Regions from separate parts of the Homo sapiens genome. Here region 1 is reported to be linked to region 2. Evidence: microRNA targets listed by miRTarBase, many of them from high-throughput screens and not tested one by one. Region 2 holds a microRNA gene; the other region holds the end of a gene's coding sequence.
What was found. The annotated mature microRNA hsa-miR-208b-3p reads AUAAGACGAACAAAAGGUUUGU and lies in region 2 at 1,724-1,745, opposite strand. An mRNA with a match to its seed (bases 2 to 7 or 8) in the 3' UTR can be bound and repressed. Matches are read on the target gene's strand: a 7mer-m8 pairs with bases 2 to 8, a 7mer-A1 pairs with bases 2 to 7 and ends in A, and an 8mer does both.

Region 1: miRTarBase lists GXYLT1 as a target of hsa-miR-208b-3p. The part of its 3' UTR that is shown has no 7-base or 8-base seed match.

The regions. Positions count from the first base shown.
Region 1 is chr12:42,083,810-42,088,194 of GRCh38, forward strand. GXYLT1 (glucoside xylosyltransferase 1) reads right to left here. Exons shown (of 8, transcript NM_173601.2): 8 at 1-4,138. The coding sequence ends at 3,977. It also overlaps the pseudogene LOC101929308. Among named protein-coding and RNA genes, the nearest start is that of GXYLT1, 59 kb to the right of the region's middle.
Region 2 is chr14:23,416,274-23,420,660 of GRCh38, forward strand. It overlaps MIR208B (microRNA 208b), which reads right to left and starts at 1,790; the gene lies at 1,714-1,790. MYH7 (myosin heavy chain 7) reads right to left here. Exons shown (of 40, transcript NM_000257.4): 27 at 3,572-3,961; 28 at 3,210-3,336; 29 at 2,904-3,022; 30 at 1,937-2,133; 31 at 1,230-1,413; 32 at 880-1,045; 33 at 595-719; 34 at 1-39. MHRT (myosin heavy chain associated RNA transcript) reads left to right here. Exons shown (of 6, transcript NR_126491.1): 3 at 1-24; 4 at 643-735; 5 at 939-1,100; 6 at 1,260-1,322. RefSeq lists an enhancer at 1-172.

The DNA.
Region 1 (4,385 bases), not on the chromosome of region 2:
TTCCTTGGCCCCCTTCAGACCTAATGAAGCAGTCCCCTCCACTTCCAACCTCCACTGGGGAATATGTAGTTAGTCTTGCAGTCTAACACTTGGGATGGCTAAAACAATAAAGTTAAAAAGGAAGATACTTGTATTTCCACAGGTCCTAGCTCACAAACTGGGATCCACTAAAAAAAAAAGACATAAAATGTTGAATTGGCACTAAATGATCAGTGAGTAGGGTGATTGGGAAACAACTCTAGTACTAACAAACCAAATACAGCAGGCCCTGCTGCCCCATTCCATGGAAGTCAGCACCTTTCCTGACCCCAGAGAGCCCAGGCAAGCAAACTGATGTAGTGTGAGGGCTACAACTCAAAAAGTAAATGTTTCCACACCATTTCTCTCCATCTCTACTTCTCAATTTTCCATACACTCATTCCATCTTTTCTCTTACTCTGCCCTTTGCCATCCCCATTCTTACTCCTTTCTCTTTCCTCACCCCTTTTCTCACTTCCTCTCTTTTCCTTCTTTTTTGATTTAGTTACATCATTCTTTTCTTCTCTACTTTCTCTTCCTGAAAAACTCTTCCTTACATAAACAAATTCATACTGGAGATATATGTCAGAAAACATTCAGCCTGAGTAAACTGAACGCTCTGTACAGAAAACAACGAACAAAACAGAACTTCAACAGTAACACTGGCGTGGCATAATATAAGCCACGCAAAATGCTTCCAAATCCATTATCTCTTCTGAGTTTCATCTTGTGAGGTTTGAAGGGTACACTGATTGTACTTAAAAACCTAAGGCACAGAGAAGGGTAAATAACATGCCTGAGTTACTAAAAAGAGAATCCAGATCTAGTTCAAAATCTGGTCTTCTTTTCACTATACCAATAACATCTGACTGGAGGCAAGATGAGAGAGCAATGAGTAAGCACTAATGTTATTTCAGGGCCTTAAAACCCTTATATATTATGAACTACTCTTCATTAGAAAAAAGTATGCATTTTCTTAAAGCATAAATCACAATATATATTTTTAAAGGTTTCCCAAGTTCTTTTCTACTTCATACAAATGAAGTTTGACTGCATTTTAAAGGCATCCCACTTTGGTAATACTGTAGCCCAGAGATAGTTCTGAGGTCAGAATACATAGACTCAAATAATAAATCATGTAGTTTATATAAACTGCATAGATACACTATGTTTTATGAAAGACCATTTATATGAAGATGGAATACGTTCTCTAAGTTGTCCATCTATAATTTAACCTCTCATCAACTCCAAGAACTGCATTTCTTTAGAATTCAAAAGAATTACCTTGTCTAAAGATAAATTCAGAAAATTCATTTAAAAATTATTATACATATTTTGTGATACCTTTAATTTTAGGTAGAAACAGTACCCAAAAGACAGTTTTCACTATAATTCAATTTATGGTAAAATGATCAATTAGGTCAGGTCTAAATAAACCAGATGAAGAACCTTCCAACTGATCCACAATGTAGTGTGTGTGACAGTGTAAATAAGCCACAACATGAGTGAGACCACAGCATACAGTCCAGTTGGATTAAACTGTGACCACGCTCTACACAAGTCCCAATCAATTAGAGCCCATGGGGCTGAGATTCTCCGTTCACTGAGGAAATTTTATCTTATCAAACTTACTAATATAAATTCATATCCTGTCATTAACCCCAAATGCTTCCTCTAATATTTCAAAATCACATTTATAATCCACCAAACGTGCCAAGAATTGTGGTATCCTAACTTGAACTTTCAAGTTGGCAAAATAATTTCCAGTGGTTCTCAAAGTAGCTAACATCAAAGTCATCTGAGGTGATTGTTAAAAACGAAATCATCATGTGACTTATATTCTGTTGATTCTAACAAACCAACTAGAAGATGATTTTTGAGATAATCAGGGAAATTTGCTTAAGGACTGGCTATGAGATGAAGCCGAAGGACTGCTGCTGCCTCTGTTAGGTGTGATATCGTGGTATCTACCCAAAGTGTTCACAGCAGTGAAATAACACAATGTATGGGATTTTAAGATACTTAAGCAAACAAAAAAATGACAAATGAAGCAAACATGGTAAGATAGTGATAAGTGTCAGATCTGGATGTTGAGTACCAATGCACTATTCTAGTTTTGTGTAATTTTTAAATTTCTTCATTAAAAATTGTTTTACAGACTCCCTCCTAGACACAGCATGCCAGAGTCTCCAAAGGCCTAGCTCAGGAATCTATTCTTAAGCTCCCAACAAGAATCTTACATAGTCAGGCAGGCAATGATCATTATTTGAGGACCATTAGAAATGATCTAATACATACCCTCCAAACTTCACATTTTTAGTATTCTCATTTTCTACTCAGTAAGCTCAATTTCACAGTTTCTTATATTCACCATGGCATTCTGCCAAGGAACTACAACTCGTGTTCTCTAAACCCATCTGTTCTAAGAATGCTGGACTGGTTATCAACTTCTAATGCACCCTGCTTAAACTTTCCTCTCTCAATTTGTCCCTGACTGAACTGCAGACGACAGAACAACTGTACTAACCATCTCTTTCTGCATATTCCATGTCTCCACAGAGGTCACTGTGTCTTCACAAAGCTAACTGCCACAATTTTCACAGGTTGTATTTTTCCTTCATGATTTTCCATTTTCTACTTGAGCATTAAAATATCAGGGAGAAAAAGAAGATAACCATATAGATAATCATATTGTTGGTAAAATAAGATATGTGCCCCAGCATAGTATATGCTAAGTATTCAGAATCTATAGTTATATTAGCTAACAGGTCAAGAATGCCAAAGAAGTAATTTCTCAAGATTTAAAAAAATTAACTGTCTTAGGTGATATTCAAAAATGCACATCAACCCAATTAAAACCACATTTTCTACAGCTGGATGTAACAATCTTATTCCAAATCATCCACTTAAGTTGTTTAACTTACTTAAAGTAAGGCTCTAGACATTTGCTTCTTCAAAAGTATCTTGCAAGGCCGTTATGAGGTAGAAGACAAGTTTAAATGGACCATATTTTTCTACTCCATTGTAACTAAAATTACTACTCACAGGAAGTATATAGCTTATGCATTTTGGTCCATCACACTTTCCACCATCATGAGTATACTCTTAAGGTTCTCACTTTACCATCAGCATAATATATTTTGCTTCCAGAATGCCCAGTAAAGCTGACGTTTTTCATTTAAAGTGATTAAAAAAAAATTCCCCAAATATCTATTTAACAATCTTAGATCTGAGTTTTGGCAAGACAGTTTAATGCATACAAAATGAAACACTACATTTCTCACTCTCTCTCACACACAAACACGCACACACAGATTAAAATCCCAAAGTTTTCACTATTTTTCCTCTACCTTACACAGCTCAATTTTTAACATGCAGCTTACTTGTAATCTAAAAATAATTTTAAACATGATTGTCATAAAAATATTTTAAAACAGAGATGAAATGTATAAAGGCACACATAGATTGTCAATGGTTACATCAGTTACATCACATTTCTTCAGAAACAACAGACCTGTTTCTGCTCCTGTAAACAAACTTTTTTCTCACACTTTTAAAGTGAGGTTAGTGCTGACATAAAATTATTGCTCTACTCACAGTCTTGAGTGTTGGCACTGTTTGAGGTACATTTTCTCCATCTACACACCCCTACCACTCTTGAGAGTATGAGTCAACAGAAGTCTGCAGGTTAAACCCATTCAATAGTATTTTCATCAATACTGGAATGATAGCAAGTAACATTACAAAACATCAGAGATAAAAAATGTTCAATGTTGAGGCCCAAGATTTTAACTTATTCTTCATTACCTGAAAATACTGCTTACTTAACTTCTTTAGGAAAAAAAAAATTATTCTGGAGATGAGTAATTCCTTCCTGAATACTTCATCCAAGACGATTCCTTCACACTTATCTTCTGATTCTTTGTTTTCATCCATTTGATTAAGCAGTCACCAAGAATCACTTTTCCTTTGGTGATCTGGCATAACGATCTCTTACACTTTTTGCTAGTTGTTTGATAAATATTTTGTAAATTTTTCCACAGTATGTATGCACTGTTTTTTGTAGTTCCAGTTCTAAAGGTTTTAATAAGGAACGGATGTTGTCATCTTCAAAAGAACACTAGAGAAAGAAAATTTTAAAAAATAAAAAATTTAAAAGGCAAAGGTACATATGTAAGTTCAATTATTTTCCAAACTTCTTCAATCAGTTTAATATGAACGATCTCCATTTAACGTCTCACAGAAATTAGATGTTTAACAAATATTTTCAATAAATTAAACAGAACTATTATCTCCCATTAAAGAAAGACAGCCATGGTAAATCTCCGGGGGAATCCTGGAGAACATGCGCAAGGGCAGAGAAGACT
Region 2 (4,387 bases):
GGCCCGGAGGATCTTGCCCTCCTCGTGCTCCAGGGAGGCCTGGGAAGGGGTTGGGGGAGGGGATGCAGGCAGACAGTCAGGGCACAGGGCAGGGTGGGGGCCTGCTCACTAATCATGGATACGAAGTGACTTCAAGAGTGGTGTAAGTGGTTCAAAGAAGCAGAAGGTGGAGGAAAAGAGAATCTAAGAGAAAATAAAAATAAGCCTAAGAGAAAGTGATTCAGGCCCTCACAGGGGAGAGCCAGCTATGAAGACAAGGAGGAAAATGAAGAGAAAAGTGTTGCCAAGGAAACAGAGGCAATCAGGTATAGAGTATAAAAGAAAACAGAGGGAGGCAGAGGTGGGAACCGGGAGGTATGTGGAAATGGGAAGCTCAGCTAAGATGCAATGGGTAAAATGTTTATGTGAAGAGAGTTCAGTGACTGGTCATTCATTCACTCCACAAATCTTCACTGAATGCCTACTATGTGCCAGGCTCTGTCCTAGGCTCTGGGGATGGGACAGTGAACAAAACGGACAAAGCGGGGGATGAGAACAGGGACCAAAAGCCTGGAGCTCAGCTCCCTGCACCCCGTGCCCTGCACACACACACACCTCGGCCTCCTCCAGGGCTGACTGCAGCTCCATCTTCTCGGCCTCCAGCTGCTTTCGGACCTTCTCCAGCTCATGGATAGTCTTTCCGCTGGAACCCAACTGCTCAGTCAAGTCGGAGATCTCCTCTGTGTGGGGAACACGGTAACTCGGTTGAGGGCTGCTGAGGTCCAGTGGAGTTGGAGGGACACGCCTCTTTGCCCAGACGCCTCTTGGAGCCCTTGGGTGGCACCATATGGGAACACTGCCAGTGCAGCCCCTCCCCAGCCTCTTGGGCCCCCAGCACACCCTGCAGGTTTTTGTTCTCCCGCTTGAAGGTCTCCAGATGTTCCAGGGACTCCTCATAGGCGTTCTTGAGTTTGAAGAGCTCTGTGCTGAGGGAGCGAGCCTCCTTCTGCGAGGACTCCAGCTCCGACTGCGACTCCTCATACTTCTGCTTCCACTCGGCCAGGATCTGCCCGGGGACAAGGCTCACTCTTCAGCCCCCCAGCCTCAGCCCCATGTCCAGGGTCTGTCTCAGGACCTGCCTGGGCTCAGCCCTCCTCCCCCACCTCCAAGGAGGATGGCTCTGGCCTCTCACTGAACCCCTCATGCCCCCTTGCCCTGCATGCTGGCTGCGGCCCCCACCCAGGGCCCACCTTGTCGAAGTTCCTCTGCTTCTTGTCCAGGGCTGCAGCAGCAGCATTGGAGCGCTCTACGTCCACCATCAAGTCCTCGATCTCATTCTGTAGCCGGTGCTTGGTCTTCTCCAGCGAGGAGCACTTGGCATTAACAGCCTCCACGGCCTCCTCAGCTTCCTGCAGCCGCTGGGCCAGCTTCTTCCTGCCCAGGGGAGGGTGGCAGAGGGTGGGGAGGATGGAGGGTGTGGATGGGGACAAGAGGAAACAACATGAACCTTCTCAAAGACAATCCTTGAAACCTCAGAAGTGTAGCTGGAGAAGCCTGAGGACAGGTCCCAGGGGCCGAGAACATCAGGCAGAGGATCCCAGCAGGGCGTGGAGACCCAGGCACCCTCTGACCCTGGCCCAGCCTCTGCGCTATGGACATTGAGGAGGTATGGGCTTCTGCAGCCCTCCCCACTGCCTTTCCCTGCCACAGTGCCCTGCCCCAGACGGAAGCACTCTGCCCTCAGACAAACCTTTTGTTCGTCTTATATTCGGATCAGAAACATAATTCGAGCAAAAAGCTTCCCTGAGAGGAGAAGGAGGTGGGGCCGGGGCAGAGTCCTCCTGTGTTGTCAAACACTAGCTAAGCATCGCCTGTGTGGGATCTGCTGAGGCTGGGGCTGGGCTGAGTCCTGCCTGCAAAGGGGCCTCAGCCAGAAGTCAGGCTGCTCAGAACTCACTTGGCCTCCTCGAGCTCCTCAGTCCGCTGAATGGCGTCCGTCTCATACTTGGTCCTCCACTGGGCCACCTCCGAGTTGGCCTTGGAAAGGACGCGCTGCAGCTCGGCCTTGGCCTCCGTCTCCTCCTCGTACTGCTCCCGCAGCAGGTCGCAGTCATGCCGGGCCGACTGCAGTGCGTGGGCCAGGGCGTTCTTCGCCTGGGGAGGGGTGGGCACCAGGAGGTGGGTTCAGCTTTCTCCATAAAGCAACCCCACCCTTGCCCTTCTCCTCACCCCAATCTCAACATCATCCCTTGGCCTCATCTATGTCCAAACCCCCAGTGGACCTGTCATGGTTTACTGTTTGCTGATAACAAAGAATGCCAATACAGCAGTGAACTATTTAAGAAAAGCTTCATGGCCATTGGCCCTGAGCTCCTCCCCACACCAGACATGGTCATCATCACCGCCATTTTACCTGGCTGGGGAGAGGGAAACAGGCTCAGAAAGGTTAGGGGACTTCCCTAACCTAAGATCACTGAGCTATAAGAGGCAGGTTAGTATGAACCCTGGAGTTTTTTAAAAATCATGTTCTTTCTCCTTTTTCATGAGTCCAGCAAAGTGCTAGGAATAGGCTCCAGTTGAATTTCTTTCTCCAGTTTTCAGGTGGCCCTGCAAATCCCAGGACCCATTTGTGCAGTCCCTACATCCCCTAGCCGTGCCCGGGCAAGGCCATCTCGTGCCTCCCTAGTTCATTTTCTCTCCTCCTTCTCACACCCTGCCTCCCGTCCAGGGATGCAGCAGAAGCAGAGGGCCTCAGCCTGGGGAGTAGATGGCATGTGGCAGGGTTTGGGCTGTGATTTCTTTTTAGAATTCTTGGAGAACTGTTGGTCCACAGCCAGCCTTATTGCTGGGAAGGGAAGTGATTTGATGCAAGGCTAGTCAGTGTGCTCCTTGCTTGGGCCAGGTGGCCCGAGTCTAGCCCTTACCTTAACCTCCTCCTCCAGCTGCCTCTTGAGGTCCTCCAGCTGCTGGGTGTAGGTGAGCTTGCCTCGGGTCAGCTGGGAGATCAGTGCCTCCTTCTCATCCAGCTGCCGGGACAGCTCACCTGGGGAAGCACCATTCTAGATCAGCACTCCTCTCTATCCCCACCTCCTCCTCTAGCCCTCAGGCCCCATTTTCTGGAGAGACTCTGTGTCTGTGTGTGCGTGTATTGGCTTGTGCCCGAGGCTGGAGTGGCTCAGGAGGTTGGGGAGACTGTGGTGGGAACCATGGAGCCCCTGCTCTAGGCTCACCATTCTCGGTTTGCAACTTGGCCCGCTGGCTGGTGAGGTCGTTGACAGAACGCTGGGTCTCCTCCGCCTTGCTCCGGTGCTCATTCATCTGGTCTTCCAAGGTCCGGCACATCTTCTCCAGGTTAGCCTGAGAAGGGAAGGAGAGTTATATGATGGATGTTGGGGGCGGGGGGAATGAAGGGGTGTAAGAGGTGCAACTGAAGGAGAAAAGAAGAGGGAAGGTGTGAAAAGAAGGAGGGGATCTGAGAACCAGGCAGAGGAAGGGAAGTGGGAAAATGAACCATGAAGGAAGAGACACTACATGGACAGAAAGGGGAGGTGGGAGGAGGAAGTTGGAGGAGGGGAGGCCGAGCAGAGCCTGCCTTGGCCTTGATGATCTGCTCCATGTTGGAGGTGACGTCATCCAGCTCCAGCTTGAACTCGCTCTTCTCCTTCTCCAGCTTCTGCTTCACCCGCTGCAGGTTGTCGATCTGCTCGCCCAGCTCGGCCACGCTGTCGGCGTGCTTCTTGCGCAGGGCCGCGGCAGTGGCCTCGTGCTGCAGCGTGGCCTCCTCCAGGTCCCGCCGCATCTTCTGGAACTCGGCCTCGCGCTTCTTGTTCATCTCGATCTGCACGGACGTGGCCCCGCCGGCCTCTTCCAGCCGCTCGCTGATCTCCTCCAGCTCCCGAGACAGGTCTGAGCGCAGCTTCTCCACCTTAGCCCTGGCGGTGCGCTCGGCCTCCAGCTCCTCCTCCAGCTCCTCGATGCGTGCCTGGTCAGACACAAAGGGCTCAGACCCACCGCCTGGACCCCTCCACTGGAATCCCCCCGGCTCTAAAAGGCTCTCGGCTTCTCTGGAACAGCAAGTCAGTTTAGCTCTTCCAGTGGAGAGGTGGGAATTAAAGGATTTGGGGAAGATAGTTTGAAGAGCCTTCCTTTAGGCGAGGGCCTGACAGTCTACATGCTCTTTATTGGAAGGAAAGTGGTTGAAACTTGCTCTTAAAGATGGACAAAGAGACCTGTGTTCTGGGGATATTTTAAGCAGTTTAGTCATAAAAAAATAACAAAAGTTGAAAATGAGAGAGCCGTATTTGTCTGACCAGACAACTAAAGACCTAACACAGCTTCTGCTCTAGAGTAAGGAGGAAAGTCATGCCATCAGAGTCGAAGGACTCTTAAAAACCTCCATGTAACAGGG